Regions from separate parts of the Homo sapiens genome. Here region 1 is linked to region 2. Evidence: fine-mapped expression QTL. A gene starts in region 2. The other region holds a variant in brackets. All regions are shown on one strand. Distances are between the middles of the regions. Region 1 overlaps SMYD2 (SET and MYND domain containing 2). Region 2 holds the start of SMYD2 (SET and MYND domain containing 2).

Region 1 (11,886 bases), 49 kb before region 2:
CCTTGATTTCACAACTGGGGATCATCATTCTGAAAATCCCAAAGGTCAAACAAATGGAGAATTCCTCCAGGCACAGGCTGGGCCTGTGATCACGGCCAGCCCTCTGGATGTGGGCACCCATTCCCTTTGAGGGAGGCCTGGACACAAACACAGCAGAGGTGCACTCTCTCACTCCCCCCTCACCTGCAGGACCCACCCCCGCTGCTCCCACGGCAAGAGGGTGGGTGAGAGCTGCTCACCCTCCACTGCTTCAGCCATTCAGCCTGGTGAGGCATGAAGGAGGTGCGCTAAGGAGGCCATCTGGCCACTGGGAATCCTAAGGCCGAGTTACAGACATACCTTCTTCAGGGCTTTCTCCCCTGCGGCTTTGTGTTCCAGGCCCATGTAGAGTCTCCCTAGCTTCAACCACATGGAGGCCACGTTGAGGGAGTACAAAGGATAGTGCTTACTAGAACAAGAGAAGAGACAACAGGCCACCATGTCAGCGGCTACTGAGCCGCCCCACAGGCTGGGTGCAGTAAGCCGGAGGCTGCCATGCTTAGGGCCAACCTCTGCCCACCAGCGGCCTCTCCAAATCCCACCAGGGTTTGGGTGGAGAGCGTGGATGCTGCCACCCTGCCGAATCATTGCAGATGTTGTTCATTATTTGTAGTTTGTGTGTTTCTGAAAAGCTACGTAACAACTGCAGGAGAAATCCTATTCAAAAGCATTTGTAAACACAATCTTCAATCCCAGTCCAGATTTTTATATTTCAGACATACCCAGAGGAAGACCCTGGGAAAACAGCTTGTGAAGTAAATGTCCCATTTATGAAGGCAGCAATTAGGCCTATCACCTTAGGTACTCAGACATACAGCCACCCACCCAACCCCCACCCACCCCAATGTGTCTTAAGACCCCAGCTTTCTGTCACACTATGATATGGGTTGGTTTAGCAAAACAGTTAAGTGCTCTGAAGTCAGAACACTTCCTGTGTCTTCTGGATGTTCTTTCCCCATTGTCCAGCAGGGGCTTTAGATACAGCAAGTGTTCTCTCCGGCTGTACCTGAAGACTGACTGATGGGGTCTGCCTGGGAAACAGCCATTTCCCTAAGAACAGGGCCCAGAGGCAGCTGGTGGGTGAGCCAGTGTGTGTGTTTACATGTGTGTAAGAGGTGTTTATTTAAAGGCTAGGCTGTTCCACCCTGTGTCTCCTGAAAGTCAGTCCAAAAAGACATGTTCTAGCTGTATTCCTGGGTAGGAGGCAGCCCTGGGACCCACGGCCCCACAGAAGACCAGAGCTGGGCTTCCGGGAGGGGCTCACGCAGATAAAGATGGGTCTAGCAGAGCAAGGCCCTGCTGGGAGAACCACAGGGCTGGGATGCTGTCTGTCTGCTCCTCTCTCCCTACAGATCTCACACAGAGAACTGCGCATGAGGCCAGTGCACTTCCTCACACACTCTAGGAGAAAAGGAAGGTTTGAGTTTATCCCCAATTTAACAAATTCTGTTTCCAAGAGCAGATTTTAAGAGCTGGCTTCCTTTGGGCTCCCCCTGCTGGCTAATCAGGGCACAGTGGGGTAAGTAGAGGGTGGAGTGGGCAGTGGACATTCAGACCAGACACAACCTTCACAGACCCTAATCTCGGAAGTGGAAGGAGACTGAGGGCTTCTCAAACTCCTGAGAAACACCTGGGATGCTTCCAGAACACAGATTTCTGGGTCTAATGCCCAGCGACCCTGATTCACTTGGCCCACTTGGTGTTGGACGTACCCTGTAAATGCATAATATCAGTGCCTTTAAAAAGAGCTCCAGTGATCCCATCTAGGCCACCTCAGCCCTGAAGTGTCTAGTCCGAGTCAGAGGACAAAGCCACAACTTCCGTCTGTCACCCACTTTTAGGTTTAGTAACCCTCTCAGGCAGGAAATCTCTCCAGGGCTAATATTCATTATTACTACAAATTAAAAAGCAATTTTTGTTTCTTTTTTCCAAACCTGGGGTGGGGAGATTAGATAACCACGGTCAACCCACTGGTCCCAGAGCTTCCCCATTTGCAAACTGGGGCTGTAATTTGAAAAAGCAAAAGAAGGGGATGGTGTGAGTAATGATGAAAACCAGGGTTTCTGAGACCACCACTTAGTAATTAAACTTGGAAGCAGTGGGTGGGAAAAGAAGCAAACTAGTGGCTTCTCAAAACTAGCCTGAGTTAACTACTATGGATATGGCCCTGGATGGACCTGGGAGGGATCTTGCCCCAGTATCCGCTGCATAACCTCAACCTGTCTCCTTGGGATGATGGTGAGAACAGGCCTGACTCGGGAGCAGTGCCCTGCACCAGCACCTCCAGATGTGGGTGCAGAGAAGAGGCAGCTGCGCTAGGCAAGTCTCAGCAATGGGCAGGAAGATGACACTATCGTATACATTCTAAACAACCAAATTCCACTCCGTGGATGATTAGAACAGCCTCTGCAATCACCTGTAGGGCTTAATGATTTTCTGTCCATATTGCAGGGCTCCTTCCCAGTCCTGCATGTACAAGCAGACACCCATGGCCTGGTACATCATGTGCAACATGTACACGTTACTGTCCTCAAACACAGAGCTCATCTTCTCCTGGCTGAGCTCGCAGATCTCCAGCAGCTCACTAGGGGGTGCTGTGGAGTCAAGGAAAGGGCCACCGGGCCCAAGCTGCCTGGAGGCTTCCCCAGGCTGGGTTCAAGGAGTTATTTCGTCCACTCCACTCTCACCCTTACCCCATGAAAAAGTAACTTACAGAAAGCCAAGCAAAAGTGAAAGGAATTACATTTCTCCAGAAAAAACAAATGAAGAAAACCTGAAGGTCGGAACCGCTCAACTCAAGAATTTTAGCCGCAGGGTCCAGACCCCTAGTTCTGATGTAAACAATGTTGATTAAAATCACGATTCTAATCAAATTCAAATCCTCACCCAAGTTGGAACCCTGAGCACGACTCCCACTGTGGCAAAGTTCTTTCTTATGCTGAGAAACAATGTGCCTTTCTCTCATTTCCTCTCACTGGTTTTAAATTCTACCCTTTAGAGTACAAATCGAATCCCTTTTCAACTCCCAAGAAAATGCTACAATACAATGGTTAAGAATATGGATTCTGATAGAGCTGGGACAAAATCCTAGATCCTATCACCATCAGCTGTGTCCTTTGGGCAAATTACTTAATATCTATCAGGCTGTTTCCTCATCTGCTGCATGGGAATGAGCAGAGTCCCTGCTCAGAGTGTGCCAGTGAGGAGAGCTGAAATAAGCAAGGCCCTTGGCACTGTGCCCTGCCCAAAGTAAAATACCCAAAGCACAAGGCCATCAAGGCTCTGTCCTTCATGGTCCTCCACCACATGGGGCTCCCAGCCAAACTAGCCAAAATAAGGGGAAATAAAATCATACAACTCCAACAGGATGGACACCACATTGTGGGTGGTCAGTACGCCTTTACACATTTACTAGGAGACATTCCTCCTTTGGTTTTCAGAATCTTAAATCCATCCTTCTCCTGCTCCCTCTTTCCAACTTCCCACCTTGCCTTGTTGGCGAGGGATAATAAGCTATCAGGGCAGTTGTAAAGGATATATTTATAGTGCTTGGCCCTCCGGAACTCTTCAATGACGTTGCGTGCATATCTGACCATGTCTCGGATGGCTTCTGCCTTTGGGGGATCGCTGAGCTTCCGGATTTCCACCTTGGCCTTATCCTGAAGGAAACGTCCACAAGGGCAAGGCGTTACCGCCCATGGAAACCACACTGATAGGGAAACCTCTCATATAATACACATTCCCACACAGCGGTCGACACTGGCCCATTCCAAGGTTACAAAAGAATGAAAGGAAATCAGGCAATGCATCTGAAGAAATTCAGTACTCCATTACCTTTTTACAGAAACAAAACAAAAAGATTAATTTTCTAGATACTCCTTATCTAAAATGTGTTGGCTATGGGCAGATATATGTGTTTACACATCTACGAATCAAGAGACTAGAATAAGGAAGGATGGCATTGACGGAACAATTTGGAAAATGCCAGGGAAACTTCCACATATTCTGGTGAACAGGTTGGAAAGCCTAGAGATTATACTCATGTGCTTTTCCCCCCTCCTCCTTTGAGCAGTTGTTTCTTTTCAAGAAAGAGCAGTTCGGCAGACCTTTCTCCTGTTTGTACAGTGTAATGGAAATGTTTTCTTTAGCTACTAGGAGCAGGTCTGAACAGAGACCTGGTCTAACTAGATTCCCTTTGGCTGTCTTTGTAAGGAGGGTTTAAAGGGTCAAAAAGATCCTAGAGGAGATCCGCCAAGTCAGACAAGCTCTTCAGCAGAGAGGTCCTGAGATCAGAGTGCAGTCAGCGCTCTTGCCCAATGAACAACCTTACCTTGTCCTTGGTGGTACACTCCTGGCACTCACAGGTAAAGAAATAAGAATCTCTTAACCGGTCATTTCTATCTTCCGTTGGGTACAGGAGATCAATATAGCTGGTAAAAACCTACGGGGTCCAAAAAGATAA[A/C]GCTTCAGTCTGCTACAGGTAAACTCAATCCTTGTCATTCCCGTGCCTTTGCAGTCACCTGCAGGGCCCATGCAGAGGATAAGGCGGGCTGCAGCGGAGGAATGCGCTGTTTACTTTAAGGCACGGAATTCCTGAACTGAGCAGCCACCTGACGTTGGCTTTCTCTGGAAGGTGTTCACTAATCCACAGCTGAACTGGGAGCTGAAGCCAAGGTGCAGGTTAGTGGAAAGAGTCTGTAGAATCAAGGAGTCCTTAAAACAGTGTCCTGGAGGGTTCAGAGGATCCCTGCCTCCCTCAGCTGCCTCTGCCTGGCCTTCATGTAGTTTCATGTTTCACCACCTGAGACGGCGCAAATGCTTCGTTGCCGTCATCACTGGATGCTGCGTGCAGGGGAGGGCATGAGCACGCACACACCACACACATGCAGCTAAGCTCCCCTTCTCCTCACATCAACTGGCAATGGAGCAAGAGGCTCCACTCAGTGGGCTGGGACCCACAGCTCTGGGTGGCCAGCGGAGGGTGAACACATCTTCTAGGACACCAGAATGCTGCGGCCTGGCCCAGCGGGCAGCTCCTGATCCTGCAGGGCAGCGAGCTTGGAAAGTCCTTACCTTTGGTTCATGGGGCTCCACCGTCCTTGCCTTTTCCTAATGGGGTCTGTAACTAAGGCTTGGAGCATATGGAGGAGACCAGCATTTAGATGTCCATTATCTACTCACTGGGACAGCACTGGCTACTCATCCCACACAATCAGGCAAATGTCTGACTGAACAGATGGATCTCATGAAGCCGCTAGCGTGCCAGTGACCACGGGCACCACCAGGCAGGCAGGGGAGGACACGCACAGGGCTGGGTGCTGCAGGGGCAGCTAAGCTCTCCCCAGCCCATGGGGAGGTACTGGACACGTTGCAGCTCACCCCGAAACCCTGGGGAATGGGGTTTCTCCTTCTCTGAAGGGTAAGTAATCCCCAAAGCACTGACTTCCCAAAAATGAGGTTACTGCGTTTCAGATCTGGGAGAACATAAGGGCAAAAGGAAACTGCAGCCACCCCTGCCCTGCCTCACACCACAAGAGCCTGCCAACAATCTCTGTAATGACTGACTCACAGTGCAACATGCGGAAGCTTCCAGAAGATGGCGACAAAGGCCACTCCAGTACCACTGCTCCCAGCCAGACTGAGCCAGCTTAGGTGACAACCTGCTCATCTCTGCAGTCAGCCCACAGGTGCACTGGAGCCTGGGTGACTGCATTCTGACTGGCTGCAATTATCTGTTTCAAGAAAGGCTTCAGAGCAGTCTCCATAAGACCTTTGGAAACTCAGACACCCCAGCCGAAAGGGGACACACCCTCATCGTAATGGATTTAGCTGAAGGTAGAAGGGCCAACCTGCCTGCATCTTGGGCTTCAGCTCCCAGTGCAGCTGTGGATTAGTGAGTGCCTTCCAGAGAAAGCAAAGCACTTGTCATTCAGCACGCTGACAGTTATATTTTACACTTCACACTTCAAATACCCAGGCATGCACCGTAAAATAGCATTACAAATTGCTAAACTGAAATTAACCCAAGTGTGATTACAAGTTCCTAAAAACTCATGTGTCTTGCTGGGAATTTACTTAAGAACACAGAGCATACTACAGCAATCCATCAGGCCAGCCCTTCCCAGGTGAGACGTCTCATGAGGTAGTCAGGAATCACACATGGGAAGGGAACAGGGAATCGCTGAGCAGGTGATGGGAAGACTGGTTCTCTCCACGTCCTGAAGCTGAGGAGGGAAACTAAGGTGCCCCTTGGCCACAGACTGCCTTGACTTCTCCTATTACTGCATATACCTGGACTTTTGATTTAGATTCCTAAAAAGTGAACTGCGACCTGAAGTTCAGATGTGGAACTGATAGAACACGAAATTCTGATGTGTCCCTTGGAGTGCCAGCTCTTTAGCTACTGCTGCGTTGCTTGCTTTCTTTTGCTTTGGACCTTTGAGGGATGGTGGGGAACAAGCAAGAATTCACCAAAAAAAATAAAATAAAATAAGGCTCAAGCTCAGTTGTTTGGCAATAGGGATACAGAGACTCTAAAGATAATCAAAAGTTTGACTGTGGTCATTTTGGTAGTAAATGTCTTCTTTCTCTGTAAATCTCTATAAAGCTTTGGGACAAATTTGACTCAAATTTATTACTTCCTGTTTTTCTTGACCAGAGATGGAAATGTATGTACCAAACAGAAGCCCCAAAGTGTGGGAATCTAAACTACAGGTTACAAATCTGATCACTGACTCCTGGAGAGCCTGAGGGCAGACTCAGCTAAACTGCTGGAGGCATTCACAACTCATACTGTCAAGTGACACTGCACAGATCTGTCCACATTGCCTTTTAAAGAGCAGTCTCAAGCCCCCTGCTGCAGCCACCCATAGCCATGAACTCACCTCCTCTCCCGGCTTGATTTCCTGTACAGCTCTGACTTCTGCCAGGGTCCCTTTGTAGGTCACAATGACATTGGGGCAACAGCTATGATTCATCAATGCAACACTGTCAGTCAGAAGAGAAAACCCAGTTTTTAAAATGAGATAGGCAGACTGTTTAGCTTCCTTCACTACTTACTTGCTAAGTCAGAGGAACTGAATCTTTGCAAGACATTTTTTAAAAATCTAATAGTTGGCTATCACATTCTAAGAGGTTGTTCTGCATGCACTGATAATCCTATCTACCATCTCACACTTTCACCATATTAAAAACTGAAATCCACAATTCAAGTACTATCTAAGCCAAAACCAAAAAACACACAACAGCAAAAACAACAAATGCCACAAATATTCCTCCCTGATAGAATGCAGCTCTCAGAACCCAATACCCACAGCTAATTGCTACTTCACTATACACTGTCAAACACAGGTGCGTTGTCGCTTTCAAGCAGCTTTTTGTATTAGTGGATTATTTCTCACGTTTTTTTCAGATGTTGAGAAATGCCAGCTTCCTAAGGGAGGAAGGGTGTGTGATCCCCTGAGAGACCCGGAGACACCCGTCTGAGTTTCTCTGCACCTCAATTTCCTCATCTGGAAAATTGGGACATTACTGCTCCTGCTGCTCACTGTCTGCTTTTCAGGGACAGCGAGAAGGAGAGAGAGAGATTCGCCTATGCGAGGTGCTTTGAGCTTTCTGATTATATGAAGGTCAAAGTTCTGAGAACAGAAATTTCTAAACTACAGGGAAAAAGTGCTTGATCTCTGAAAATGCTGCCTTTGAAATCACAATGCTGATATGATTTCAGCCCAAAGGGATTTTTTCCCCCAATTAAAACTGCCCAGAAACTGGGGCTCATGCTCCTACGGGCACTCACAGCCATGTGTGTCATTGCTCTGGTGGCCAATGTCACCTCCCTGACCCTCCAGAGACCACAGCCCCTCTCCTGCTTGCTCCGAGAATACAAAAAGGGAAAGGGGTTTCGAAGCCTGATGAGGATGAACTGCCCCAGGCTGGCTATGGCCTATGGCCAAGTGCACTCCCCCACCTCCTGGCTGCTAAAGGCCTAAGCAAAGTATGTGGTTAGCCTGGTGCCTGAGATAAACAGGTAGCAGCTTCCTGGTCTTGACCTCGGGGAGGGCCACCTCTGCACTGCACCAAGGCCCACTTGGCTTCCTGGAAAGTGATGCCCAAGGAATCAGGTCCTAGGAAATCAAATAAACAAATGCATCGAAGGGTAGTTGTATTAAAATAAAAGCACATTTCTAAAACCATCTTGCGGAAGTATTAAATAGCTGAAGGCAGACTCGGGTATCTCTTTAATGAAGGTGGGGGAAATGCACTAAGTCAAAGACCCTAAAACAATTCATGTTCTTGGTATCATAATTCTGTTGGCAACCACTGACAGGTGAGAATCCTCAAAGCACCTCACTCTTTTTTTTTTTTTTTTTTTGAGATGGAGTCTCGGTTTGTTGTCCAGGCTGGAGTGCAGTGGCGCGATCTCAGCTCACTGCAACCTCCACCTCCCGGGTTCAAGTGATTCTGCTGCCTCAGCCTCCTGAGTAGCTGGGATTACAGGTGTGCGCCACCATGCCCAGCTAATTTTTGTATTTTTAGTAGAGACGGGGTTTCACCATGTTGGTCAGGCTGGTCTCCAACTCCTGACCTCGTGATCTGCCCGCTTCGGCCTCCCAAAGTGCTGGGATTATAGGTGTGAGCCACCACACCTGTAAGGCGTGCCCGGCAGCACCTTACTCTTAATCTTTTAGTCTTTTAAGATATTAAGAACAGAGACATTCCATAGTTCATTTCAGTTATAAAGGTGTCAATACACGCCTTCTTCAGTGGGTCCAATGCCCTCTTTTTCTCCTGCCTTTTCCCAGGGGCCAAAGTTAAAAAAAAAAAAAAAAAAAAAAAGCTTCTTTCCTCACTTCCAGAATTCCAACTGCAGATGATGCCATTTTGGCCCCAAGGACAAATATTACATGAACAAACTTTTTAGTCTCTCTGGTTCAAGTAAACCTGTGACAGCTGCTCACGAGACACAGACTGTACGGATTCTTCTCTTTCTGACCTACACAACGCACAGCGTCTGGCAGAGACGCACATAGCTAAGGGCAGGCACATCACTCAGGGCAAATGCATGAGTATTAAGGGTTTCCTACCTATGTGGCAACCTACAGGCAAAGGCCCCTGCAGTATATGTTAAGCAACCTCCCTCTGGATAGAACTTATCTACAATGTGGATTAATTTGGAGGCTGGGGGGATGCATGATGAATTCCTTGGCTCTATCTGTGAAGCAAGGGTTTGATTTCAGGGACTGAAGCATTTTGGAAATACTCACTCCATGAGACAGACAAAGGCAAAATCATTCTTGGCAATCCATTAAAGTCAGATCTATAAAGATCTCCATTTGTCAACTGGCTAGCCTTTGCTGAATTACTCAAGTATTCTTCAAATCCAGAGAAAATCCTACAGTTCTTTGAAATTTTTATCCGGCCCACTACTTCAGCATATTCTCCCTCCAAATTGTGCTGTTTCTGTACTGGTATTTATCAAAAAGGACAGATGGAGAAGAAGCTCATATAGTCTGTACTCAAGCTTGTGGCCAATTCTTGGTTGGCAATTAATGTTTCACTTTGAGCATAAGAAATGGAAAGATTTCCAGAACCACAGATAGGCAGAAAGCAAATTTCTCAGCAGGGCATGAGCTGTTCCTTCTATGCGCGCTATAAAATATTCTTTAATAACAGCTCTCTGCCTAGCAGGACTTAACAAGCAACTGTTCTCTTAACTACTACCTTTGGATCCTTAAGTGTAGGGGAAATATTTTGAAATCTGGCAGATTAAAAAGCTGTTTTAATTCACTTTGAGTTTCATGTCTGCCACATGCAGTTAGGTGGGTTATTTAAAAATGAAAAAAAAATCAAATTAGTGTTAAGTAAGTAAAAAGGAAAGAAATGAAGTCAAACACAGCCTACTCAGGAAATATCGCTGATCCCAAATGAGAAAGTTCTTCATCTTCAATTGTGAAGCCATTACAGTTAACCTGCAGCAAGAAAAAGGGAGAAAGGAAAAAAATGAGCTGGAGCTTCTTTCTGGGTAGAGATCATTTTTTTAAATTTTGACTTTTAACAAATTAGGAAGATGTTTTGGTGTAGTGGTTTTAAACCCTTTCTTTTGCCCATGTTATCGTTCAAACAAAATTTACTTATCAGTTCCATGCATAAACAAACAAGCAGAATTGTGATGCATCCCTTAGTGTAGCCTACCTACCATCTAAATACAGTGGTCCAGGCACGCCAAAGACCCCCAAGACTCTGAGGACTGACGTTTGCACACTTGCATGGGAGTTAAGATACCTGGAGTCTAATCTCAATTCTGCTACAGCTTTGTTGTATGATCTTAAGCCTATCACTGAATCACTGTGTCTTTAAAGAAAAGAATCAATCTGGCTGGGCGTGGTAGCTCACGCCTGTAATCTCAGCACTTTAGGAAGCTGAGGCGGGCAGATCACCTGAGGTCGGGAGTTCGAAACCAGCCTGACCAACATGGAGAAACCCCATCTCTACTAAAAAAAAATACAAATACAAAATTATCCAGGCGTGGTGGCGCATGCCTGTAATCCCAGCTACTTGGGAGGCTGAGGCAGGAGAATCATTTGAACCCAGGAGGCGGAGGCTGCAGTAAGCCAAGATTGTGCCATTGCACTCCAGCCTGGGCAACAACAGCGAAACTCTGTCTCAAAAAAAAGGAATCAATCCAATGCTCATCTCATAAGGTGAGGTGGTAAATATGAAGCCCTTATTCATCTAATCTAACTGCTATCCCTCTCTCTGTTAGGGAGGCAGAGGGATTGAGGGCTTAAAGCTAAGGCACTGAGACCTTGCCTTTCAAGTCTCAGCCAAATCACCTACAGGCCACCTTCTCACCCTTTAAAAGAAACGTTGTACGGGCCCGCTGGCTCACGCCTGTAATCCCAGCACTTTGGGAGTCCAAGGTGGGCAGATCACCTGAGGTCAGGAGTTCAAGACCAGTCTGGCCAACATGGTAAAACCCTGTCTCTACTAAAAATACAAAAATTAGCTGGATCTGGTGGCATGCACCTGTAATCCCAGCTGTTCCATCTACTCGGGAGGCTGAGGCAGGAAGATCACTTGAACCTGGGAGGTGGAGGTTGCAGTAAGCCGAGATTACACCACTGCACTCCAGCCTGGACGACAGTGTGAGACTCCATCTCAAAAAAAAAGAAATGTTGCATAGAAAAATACCAAGGGCAACTTTCACCATTCTGGAAGCCTAACTTAGAACAAGCAGGCTGAAAATGAGGACTATACATGCCTAACTTATGTACTGTTCTATAAACTCATTCTTTCCACAGATATGTACTGGGAGCCCTTACATGCTGGGCACCATGCACAGAAAAACAAACAGAAAGACAAACAGGCTGAAAATTTGTGGCCTCAAAGAAAATCAGACTATTAGGAGACAATTCGGTAGGTGATCTTCATGTCTCTAAAATTTCAGCACTGGAAGAAAACTAAGACTCTACTTTTTAGAGGACGAAACTGAAGTCAGAGAGGAACAATGATTTGTCCACAGTCACAAAGATACTTGGTGACAAAGGCTGAGACCCCTGCTTGTCCCACGCTGCTATGAAGTCTCTGTCCGTGAGGCACTCACACTGAACGATTCCACCCCACTCTCTTCTGCACTTGGGGACACTGCACTGTTACAATTCAGGCCAACAGATGGGCTTTGTAAAACTAGCATCCTCTGAGCACTCACTCTGGGCCAGGCACTGTGCTAGGTACTTCAGATTTACCATCCCATAAATCCGCAATATCACTATAGCATTACTACAGCAACTCATTTTACAGATGTGAAAATTGAGGCTCAGGAAGGTTCAATGATTAAGTGACTTGCTC
Region 2 (10,636 bases):
ATGCACAGCTTCAGGCAGCCAGAACCAGGGCTAGTTCAGAGAACTTCAGGAAAACAGCATCAGGATTTCATGGCCCTTAATACTGATTAAGATCAACTAAAAATTATTCTGCCGGTTTGATAAAACAAGAGGAAAGCTAAGATGAATACGCTAGAGAATAAATCTGGGGGACATGAGGAAAAAAAGCCTTTATAACTGCTGAAATAGGACACCTTAATCACAGGGTTTGGCTCAGGCAAACAATTTAATTTTTAAAACAACTAATCTAAGCCAGACATGACCGAAATTCACTGAAACTGGGTTCTAACAGCTCTATTCCAAGGAGGCTAAATGGGCTTTCCTGGTTCCCCCTACACTCAGAACAAACAAAGAAATGTCAATAATCTCATCCTTAAATAACCCATGAGCCAAGAGAACTAAAGATCAAAAGGGAGACTAAAGATCAAAAGATCTGCCTACCTGAAGAATGGCACATAGAATGAATATTTAGATGGAACACTGGGTTAAAGCAGATTTCTCTCCTTCTGAGACAAATCACATTGGGGGTTAAAATATGTCTAGGCCAGGCACGGTGGCTCACGCCTGTAATCCTAGCACTTTGAGAGGCTGAGGTGGGTGGATCACTTGAGGTCAGGAGTTCGAGACCAGCCTGGCCAACATGATGAAACCCTGTCTCTACTAAAAATACAAAAATTAGTCGGAAATCACTTGAACCCGGGAGGCGGAGGTTGCAGTGAGCCAAGATCGTGCCACTGCACTCCAGCCTGGGCAACAGAGTGAGACGAGACTGTTTCAAAAAAAAAAAAAAGTCTAAAACTTAGTTTAAAATACAACATACTTGGCCCGGCGCAGTGGCTCATGCCTGTAATCCCAGCACTTTGGGAGGCCGGGAGTTTGAGACCAGCCTGACCAACATGGAGAAACCCTGTCTCTACTAAAAATACAAAATTAGCCAGGTGTGGTGACGCATTCCTGTAATCCCAGCTACTCGGGAGGCTGAGGCAGAGGAATTGCTTGAACCGGGGAGGTGGAGGTTGTGGTGAGCTGAGATCACGCCACTGCACTCCAGCCTGGGCAACAAGAGCGAAACTCTGTCTCAAAAAAAAAAAAAAAAAAAAAAACCACACCAAAAAATGGTGATAAATGGCCAAAATGTGTATGTGTGCATTTATGTGTGTATGTGTGTATAAAGTGTATCTGAGAAGTCTGATAGGGACAGCTTCCAAGTGGAAAAACTTTATATAATATTATTAGGAGCTGCCTTCTAGCAGTTCAGGCAAGATACGCATGTTCTCCAATGGCACCCACCAGACTGAGAAATGTGATACAAATTAAAAATTCCCCAAAGCAAACCTTTGTCTGAATTGCCCTGACCGTAAGAATCCCATTCTGTTGAGACTTAAGACATTTTCCATTATTTCTCAATTTATAGCATATACTTATTCCTACCTAAAGAAATCACTTTTCTTTTCTTCAAAAAAAGTTAGATCCTGATACAATTAGTATGACATGGAAATTCTTGGGTCATTCATTTATCTTAAGCAGTATTGTTTATGTTAAACTTCTGGCAAAAGAAAGGATAAGGGGTAGCTTTCTTTTGGGTGTGTGGAGCTGGGGCAGGCAGCAGATTTTGACCTGTAAGTATGAACATTTCCAGAATTCTACTCCTATACTTTGAGGCCCTATGGAGGAAAATACACGTTCCCCTCATACATCTGGACAGACTGATTTGTCCTAAGTCATATACAAATTGCTGACAGAGGAACTGATGCTGAATCTATCAGATGACCTAACCACTAATAGTAAATGATTCAGATTTAATAGAAATCATGAAGTAGGGTACAAGGATATTTCTAATTGCATAAGTATCATGGATATTATTTCTTTTGTATTATTTTAATTGACTTCAAATAATTCTTTGGGGAGAGAGAGGAAATAAACTACGGGTATTGACATAAGGTCAGGGAAATCAAACAGAGAAGTGGTTTGCAAGTTGTAATAACACCCCATTGCAAGTTGCAGCCCTGGTGAGGGACCCAAGGCAACAGTGAGTAACACTAATAAATGTCAATCAGAAAAATTTAACAACAAAAGAGGCAGCAAACTGTCACATATGGCAGAATAATCCAGGCTGAATGCTTTGTGAACTTGCATCTGACCATCCATTAATGTTCTAAGGTTGGGGGTATGCGTAGTAGATACAATTAGGAGACTTAAAGCTAAAGAGAAGCATCTCTCAGTTCTTCTCATCCCTTCTAAATCCAGAGGGATTTGATCTTTCATTCACTGGGGGCCAGGGCTGGCAACTACCCATATAAAGTAAGCACCTACTATGTGCCTGGCATCCATGGTCTTAGGCGATGGCTTCCAGGAATTGCCAGGATCCCTGATGGAGGCTCCTTCTGTGCTGCCTGACCTGCTTTGCTCCTGCCACTGCAGACACCCACGCTGCTGCAGACTCCGAGCCACAGCAAGGCTCAGAAGATCAAGGGACCAGTCACAGCAGCCTTTTTAACTTTGGGAAAACCCAATGCTCACTTCACTCAAACGTTGCAAAGTGGTGCCATGACCCTTTAGCTCTTGGCTCACCAATTCAAAGAGCCACATCACATACAGCCCTTAAGCTGCCCACGGCATGATTCCGTGTCTAGTTCCTTTCCAGGTCCCCCCAAGCGGAAGACAGTTCTGGCAGGGAGTCTGGGCAAGATTACTACAATATTTAGCCTTTGTCCCTTCTTTTGCTACGTCTTATTGTAGAATGAGGCACACAGGTCTGAGAGATTGAGTATGCTGGACTTGAGACCTGTACTCAAAAGGTCCCTGCAGGACCGCAGGTCAGCTTAATCCAGCCCAGGAATCTCCATTTCAAAGATGAAGAAACTGAGGTTCAAAGAAAGCAAATCATGGTCTCTACTCAGAGTACTGGAAGGCCTGATATAAACTTAACCCCAATGCCATGCCTCCTGCCTTAGTAAATTTACTGAGCACCTAACCAGTGAGAAATAGGCAGAAGTGAATAAGGCCAGATTTCACTCCCTTCACTACTGGTGTGAATGGATAAAGGTAACTCCACTTTCTCTCTGGGCTTTAGTTTTCTCATCCATTAAGTGAAAGACAAGACTGAATTGGTGATTTCTAATGTGCCTTTAAGCTCTGAAACTCTCATAAGAGTTGAGGATATAATTATGTGTTGGTGTGTGCAAATGTATATGCATCATATATACAAACACAGACACATATATACATATGGTATCTTACAATTAAATACCATTAGCAACCACACATCTTGCCCAATCCCTTCCTGCGACCATGTTTTCCTAATCCCAAACCGAAACTGGACACTGCAACTCATCGTCGCAGCACCTCAGAATCCAGGGGGTGTGGTCAGTGCCCACTGGCGTCCCTCCAAACACCCATGTAAGCGTACTTTAACATGTAAGCGTACTTTACAAGACATATACTAAGTCATTAAATTCCTTGGAAGAAACGGCCAATCTGAGGCAGGGCTGGACTGTGGGTAACAGAACACACCGCAGGAAGCATAAGTTAAAGGTGACAGCCCGTGGCTGCCCAAATTTGGGGCTCCGCTGCCAATGCACCGGGAGGGCAGTGAGTGCCCAGGCTTGGAACAAGCCTGGCTCGGAGCCCACATTTGAGGGCAGGAACCTGCACGCCCGGGTTTGCGCATCCAGCGTGAGCAACTCTGAAAACGTGCAGTGCAGGGCGTGCAGCGGGGCACCGGTCCTGTTTCCTCTCGCACGTGGCGCCTGGCGTGGGGCTGCAGCGCGGGGCCGCAGCGCGGGGCCTCCTCCCCTCCCCGCCCCCCACCCCGCCCCAAGGGCCGGCGCTAGGACCCCGCGAGCCGCACGCACTTCCTGGCGCCGCCGTCCAAGCCTCCCGCTCGGCGCCCCCGGCTCCCGCCCGCCGCCGCCGCCGCCGCCGCCCTACCTGGTGAAGCAGTACTCGCAGTGGTTGCCCCGCTCGTTGACCGTGAGCACGTAGGCATAGGCCGGGCAGGAGAACAGCAAGTCCCCCACCTGGAAGGGCTGCAGAGCCCGCAGCCCCCGGCCTTTGCCCGGGCTGCAGAAGCGCTCCAGGCCGCCGAGGCCCTCGGCCCTCATGGTGGCGGCGGGGCGCGGCCGCCGGCTGTGCCCGAGCTGCGGCTCCCGGCGAGCTGTTATTGGAGACGCGTCACCTAGAGCTGCGGGGGGCGGGGTGGGAGCCGCCCGGCGGACGCGGCGGCGGCTCCCCGCTCCCCGGAAGGGAGGGCGGCCCCGCCCGGGCCTCGCGCGCCCCCGCGGGGAGGGGGACGGGCCCGGCGGCCCCGCCTAGCGCCGCGACCCTCGGCGGCCGCCCCGCGCGCGCTCCGGGCCGTTTCCGGTGTGGCCGCGACAAAGAGCCGCAGCCCCTGTGGCTTCTGCGAGGAGGCGTGAGGCGTGTGCGCCTCCGCGGCGTCTCCACGGAGCGAGCGGGACGCGCCCTCCTCCTCGGTGGGAGGGAGGGGGGTCACCTGCGGGGACCAGGTATCCGAGGGCCACCCCTAGACAGTCAGCCTGGCCCGAAGGATGACCAGCCCCCGGTAAATAGAAGGGGGCGAAGCCAGCTCCGAAACCTTACGTTCGCTGTCCCTTGTAAAGACCCTAGAGGCAGTGATCGGGGAACGCCAAGGAGAAAGCGGCAGAGGGGAAACCACAGTAGAGAAGTTTGGTGTGCAGAGGGTTGAAGTGTGCTTTTCCAAGGTTAGAGGTTTTTAAACCTTGTGGCTTTAATGGGAACGTAGTTTGCCCTCTGCTCCTCTAGTGGAATTACATGGACGGAAGAGGAAATGCATTGGCCGGCCCAGCTCACCGAGTCTCTGAGGCATGCTGCGAACGTTGCAGAGGAAGCCAGAGAGAACCTTGCCTTCAAGGAATTTAGGCTGTTGGGGGATAATGCGATGCTGTGGCCAGTGTCCAGGACACTGCGCTAGAGTTTGCAGTAGTTTTAATATGCTTGACCACCCACGAACTGTGATCTTAGAAAAGTCACTTGGGTTAGGAGTCAAAGGATTTAAAGCCCACAAAGCCTGAAACGTAAATCCTATACACATGCACGCTATTACTTTTCATATGAGAAAGGAAAATATAATCCGTGTTCCACATGATTATGTAAAGACTGGAATTGATGTACATGCAGTAAAGACTAAAATTGTGACGAGATCATTTAGCAGAAACCACTACTTCAAAATAGGACCTCAAACAGTTACCTGTGTAAGTTCAGGACTGGTTGAGCAAAGGGAAAGGATTAATATGATTGGAGATGTAAAATCAGTGGAATTTTTGGCATTTCAGTAAAATGTCTTTATCAGCTGGGTGTGGTGGCTCAGCCCTGTAATCCCAACACTGTGGGAGGCCAAGGTGGGAGGATCATTTGAGCCCAGGAATTGGAGAGTTGGAGACCAGCTTGGGCAACATAAAGACCCCGTCTCTATGGGAAATTAACCACCTCTCAAGTGGTGCTGAGGTGGGAGGATAGCTTGAGCCTGGGAAGTCAAGGTTGCAGTGAGCTGTGGTGACTCCATTATACTCCAGCCTGGGTGACAGAGCAGGACCTTGTCTCAAAAGAAAACAAAAAAGCCCTTATTAGTGGCAAACTAAATAAGCCTCTAACCCGTCTTCAAGTAAAGGAAGTTATGATAGTATTTTCATTTATGCATTTTAAGAAACTTCGACTGACTATGGCCAGCAACTGGGATAGAAAGATGGACATCAGCCGGCTGTGGTGGCTCACGCCTGTAATCCCAGCACTTTGGGAGGCCGAGGTAGGCGGATCACCTGAGGTCGAGAGTTCAAGACCAGCCTGACCAACATGGAGAAACCTCATCTCTACTAAAAATACAAAATTAGCCAGGTGTGGTGGTGCATGCCTGTAATCCCAGCTACTCGGGAGGCTGAGGCAGGAGAATCGCTTGAACCTGGGAGGTGGAGGTTGCTGTGAGCCAAAATCGCACCATTGCACTCCAGCCTGCGCAAGAAGAGCGAAACTCTGTCTCAAAAAAAAAAAAAAAAAAAAAGTGGACAAAATGTAGTCCTAGGTCCTTGCATTTGGCACATTCAAGTTTGATAATACCATTAGTTATTGAGTATTGTTGACCAGGCATCGTGCTCCATCATTAAACACATTATCTGGTTTATCTTTACAACAGGCTAATGAGTTAGGTATTATGCCCCTCATTGCCAAAATTAGGAAGGAAACTAAGACCCAGAAGGAATGATTTTCAAGGCCACACAATAAATTGCAGAATTTGGTTTCCAAGTCAGTCTGAATTCAAGGTCCATGTTCCTAACCACAGTGTTTTGCTGCAAACAAACACAGTTCACTGGGATAAGTGCAGTTATGGTGGCTTGTACAAAATGTTCTGTGGTAGTACAGGCAGGGAGTGACAGCTTTAGCCTGCTAAACAGTCAAGACAGGCATCACATTCAAGTAACGTTAGAGCTGAGCCTGAAGGATGGACAGGATTTTGCAAGTGGAGGTGGGGAGAAGAGTTTTCTGGGCAGAGAGAACTGCGTACAAAGACAGAAGACCCTGAAAGCACAGAGCTTGTAGTTGGGGGCCCCTGAGCATCTGGAAGAGAGGACAGGAAATGAGGCAGGAACAGCTGAAGAGCATCTTCTCCAGAGGTGAGTTCTGCCCCAGAGGCCATGGGAGAGCCAGTTAAAGCGTTTAAGTGAGGGGTGGCACATTGAGTCCAGTGTTTTAGACTGATCTGCCAGCAGCATTGTGGGTTGGCTGGGGTGCCAACATTCAGCACTTCATAACTGTTTACATGTATATAAACAGCCTTGGCATGTGAGACCACTGACAGTTTGCATTTGTCTGTGTGATGACCTGATTAGTGTTTACATCCTCCACCAGACTGTACAAGCTCCATGAGGGCAGGGAATGAGTCTGTTTTTGTTACCCTTACATCACCAGCTCTTATCACTACTCCTGGAACACAGAGAGAATGGAAAAAATATTTAAAGGTTGAATAAACGTCATGGAATCTCATTCTGATTTCTGGGGGCTCTAACCAGCAAAAAGATGAAAAGACTGACGTAGAAGTAAACAATTACAATACAGTAGACAGTTTACTGTTTCAATGATTAATTGTGCAAAGTAATCTACCTGTTTACTTTTTTTATTGCAAGTAACTTTTTCCACTTTAATTGGGAAAGATTTCCACAGCTGAGAAAAAAGCAATTACATAGCTACCGAATTATCTTTCCAGATGAGTGCTGGCTTATTCTTGAGGGTGGAGGTGACTGTGATTTGAGAACACTGGAAAAGAAACCGCCTCATTTCAGAAAAATCCCTGTGATGAACTTAAATGACTCGAGATGGGGAAATGGTCACTGAAGCAGTAGCCATGAATTTAGGAGCTTAAATTACTAAGAAAACTGTGTTTAAAATAAACAGCCAAAGAATGGCAATAAACCAGCCCGGGGAGACTGATGACAGCGCTCTTCATGAAGCCCATACTTGTCACTCTGCCACTCTGTAATCTCACATTCCGTGAAGTCTTTGAGCAGCCAGGACCCATCCACTTTTCCTACGCCCTCTGCTCCATAACGTAGGAGGTATGGAATTTGAAAGGAGTGTTTTTGGTTACTTTGCCTCACTGAAACTCAGGAGAAGTGGTACAAGGACGAAAACTCCTTTGCTTAATTTCTCTAACCTAGAAGTTGATCTAATTTATGAGTAAAAGATCCTTCCAACCACAGATTAGCACATGAAAGAAATAGCTCTGGCCTAGGGAAATGAAGCCTTAGCAAAGAAGGTATCCCAGTGAACGTGAGCAAAGGGCCTAGATGCTGTATAGTTCTGCATCTATGTCTACATGTCACTTATTGAGGACATACTATGTACTTACACTGTGATAGATCCTAGTCATACCAAGGTGTAAAGACCAACATACATGAAAACAGTTATGAAGTGCTGAATGTTGGCACTCATAGATATTAGGTTCCAATCCCTGGAATCTATAAATGGCTTCAAAGGGTCTTGCAAATGTGTTTTAAGGATCTTGAGAGAGTGAGAGTATCCTGGAACATCCAGGTGGGTTCTCTGTGCAGTTGCAAGTTTTCTGATGAAGGACAGAAGGAAATTTGACACAGACAGGAGAGGAGGCAGCAATGTGACTATGGAGGCAGTGATGAGAGGGATACAGTGATGGGCTAAGGAATGCTGGCAGCCACCAGAGCTGGAAGAGGCAAGGAACACCTTTCCCCTAGAGCCTCGGGAGGGAGTGTGGCTTTGCCAATACCCTCACTTCAGCCTGTTAATCTAATTTCAGACTTCTGGCCTCTAGAACTATGAGAGAATAAATTTCTGTTGTTTTAAGACACCTGTTTTGTGGTAATTTGTCATAGCAGCCACAGGGAGCTAATAAAATAATCCAATAAAATTTTAATAGGGAGCTGAACAAAGTGCAGTAGGAAGGCTTCACAGAGAACCTGACATTTTAGCTTCTAGAAGGAAGAGGAAAGATTGACCAAGGGAAAGCAAAGTTCCCAAAATGGGCTTAAGACTAACAGTGCAGAGCTGGGCATGGTGGCTCATGCCTGTAATCCCAGCAGTTTAGGAGGCTGAGGTAGGTGGATCACTCGAGCCCAAGAGTTTGAGACCAACCTTGGCAATGTGATGAAACCCCATCTCTACAACAAGAGCAACACATTAGCTGGGCGTGGTGGCATGCACCTGTAGTCCCAGCTAATCAGGAGGCTGAGGAAGGAGGATCGCCTGAGCCTGGGAGGCAGAGGTTTCAGTGAGCTTTGATCATGCCACTGCACTCCAGCCTGGGCAATGGAGCTAAGCCTTGTCTCAAAAATAAAAAAAATAGGCTGGGAATGGTGGCTCACACGTGTAATCTCCGCACTTGGGGAGGCTGAGGCCGGTGGATCACAAGGTCAGGAGACTGAGACCATCCTGGCCAACACGGTGAAATCCCGTCACTACTAAAAATGCAAAAAATTAGCCAGGTGTGGTGGTGTGTGCCTGTAATCCCAGCCACTTGGGAGGCTGAGGCAGGAGAATACCTTGAAACCGGGAGGTGGAGGTTGCAGTGAGCCCAGATTGTGCTATTGCACTCCAGCCTAGCCACAGAGTGAGACTGTCTCAATAAATAAATAAATAATAAAGACCACAGTTGAAATTCACTGGGGTAGGAGAGACTTTGACAGTCCAATGGACAATTTTTCTTGGACTTAACGAATGTTTCCATAGCTCTCACTATGTACCAGGTGTACCTTTAAAATATATTCTCATATAATCCTTCTAATGACATTCCACAGAGGAGAATACCAAATTGAGAGGTGAAGCTAGCTGGACTTCCTGGGTCGAGTGGGGGCTTGGAGAACTTTTCTGTCTAGCTAGAGGATTGTAAATGCACCAGTCAGGACTCTGTAAAAACACACCAATCAGTGCTCTGTGTCTAGCTAGAGGATTGTAAATGCACCAATCAGCACTCTGTAAAAACGCACCAGTCAGTGCTCTGTGTCTAGCTAAAGGATTGTAAATGCAACAATCAGCACTCTGTGTCTAGCTAAAGGATTGTAAGTATACCAGTCAGCACTCTGTAAAATGGACCAATCAGCTTTCTGTAAAATGGACCGATCAGCAGGATGTGGGCGGGGCCAAATAAGGGAATAAAAGCTGGCCACCCAGGCCAGCAGTGGCAACCCGCTCGGGTCCCCTTCCACACTGTGGAAGCTTTGTTCTTTTGCGCTTCACAATAAATCTTGCTGCTCCTGACTCTGGATGTGCACTACCTTTATGAGCTGTAACACTCACTGCAAGGGTCTGCGGCTTCATTCCTGAAGTCAGCGAGACCATGAACCCACCAGGAGGAACAAACAACTCCGGACGCGCCACCTTTAAGAGCTGTAACACTGACTGCGAAGGTCTGTGGCTTCACCCCTGAAGTCAGCGAGACCATGCACCTACCCCAGGAAGAAACTCCAGACACATCTGAACATCTGAAGGAACAAACTCCGGACACACCATCTTTAAGAACTGTAACACTCATGGCGAGGGTCTGCAGCTTCATTCTTGAAGTCAGCGAGACCAAGAACCCACCGGAAGGAATAAATTCCAGACACAGAATCACAGAAGTGACATGTATGAACAAGCTGTCTAGCAGTGAGTCCAGGCTCAGAACCACTCCACCATGCTGCCTCTCTGTTCAGCCAGAGCTACAGCTTTCCTTAGAGTACTTGGGATGAAGGTGGATGGGCAGGAGTGGGCCCCATCATGAAACCCATGAGCCTAGGAGCTAGACGGCACTGTGTAGGCACGTGAGTCAGAAGAATTTTGGCTGACATGATCCGAGTTTTGCTGTAGAAAGTTCATTTTTTAGCTAAATAGAGAATACACTAGAAGGGGCTGAGGAGACAGAGGGAACTGAGGCGCCTGATGCAATAAAGGGTCCAGAGGAGAGATGTTACTGGAATGAACAAGGGCAGTGACGGTGGCAATGGGAAGGAGGGACATGGATTTGAAGAACTTTTAATTAACAGGACACGGTAATTGGGGCGAGTGAAGAGAAAGGAGAGGGAATATGAACCATAAAAAATATGTCCAAGGACAACTGACATCATCACCTCCATCCAGTCCT

The links.
Region 1: its variant is fine-mapped to the expression of SMYD2 in aorta (GTEx, PIP above 0.99).

The regions. Positions count from the first base shown.
Region 1 is chr1:214,322,762-214,334,647 of GRCh38, reverse strand. It overlaps SMYD2 (SET and MYND domain containing 2), which reads right to left. Exons shown (of 12, transcript NM_020197.3): 6 at 9,940-10,007; 7 at 6,924-7,026; 8 at 4,370-4,480; 9 at 3,578-3,698; 10 at 2,456-2,630; 11 at 340-448. Among named protein-coding and RNA genes, the nearest start is that of SMYD2, 48 kb to the right of the region's middle. RefSeq lists an enhancer at 5,492-5,581 and a silencer at 5,508-5,802. The variant A/C (reference allele first, on the strand shown) is at 4,502.
Region 2 is chr1:214,274,740-214,285,375 of GRCh38, reverse strand. It overlaps SMYD2 (SET and MYND domain containing 2), which reads right to left and starts at 4,217. Exons shown (of 12, transcript NM_020197.3): 1 at 3,949-4,217. The coding sequence starts at 4,121. LOC124904509 (a long non-coding RNA gene) reads left to right here and starts at 4,340. Exons shown (of 2, transcript XR_007066876.1): 1 at 4,340-6,662. RefSeq lists silencers at 3,798-3,957, 3,988-4,107, 4,128-4,417 and an enhancer at 4,697-5,262.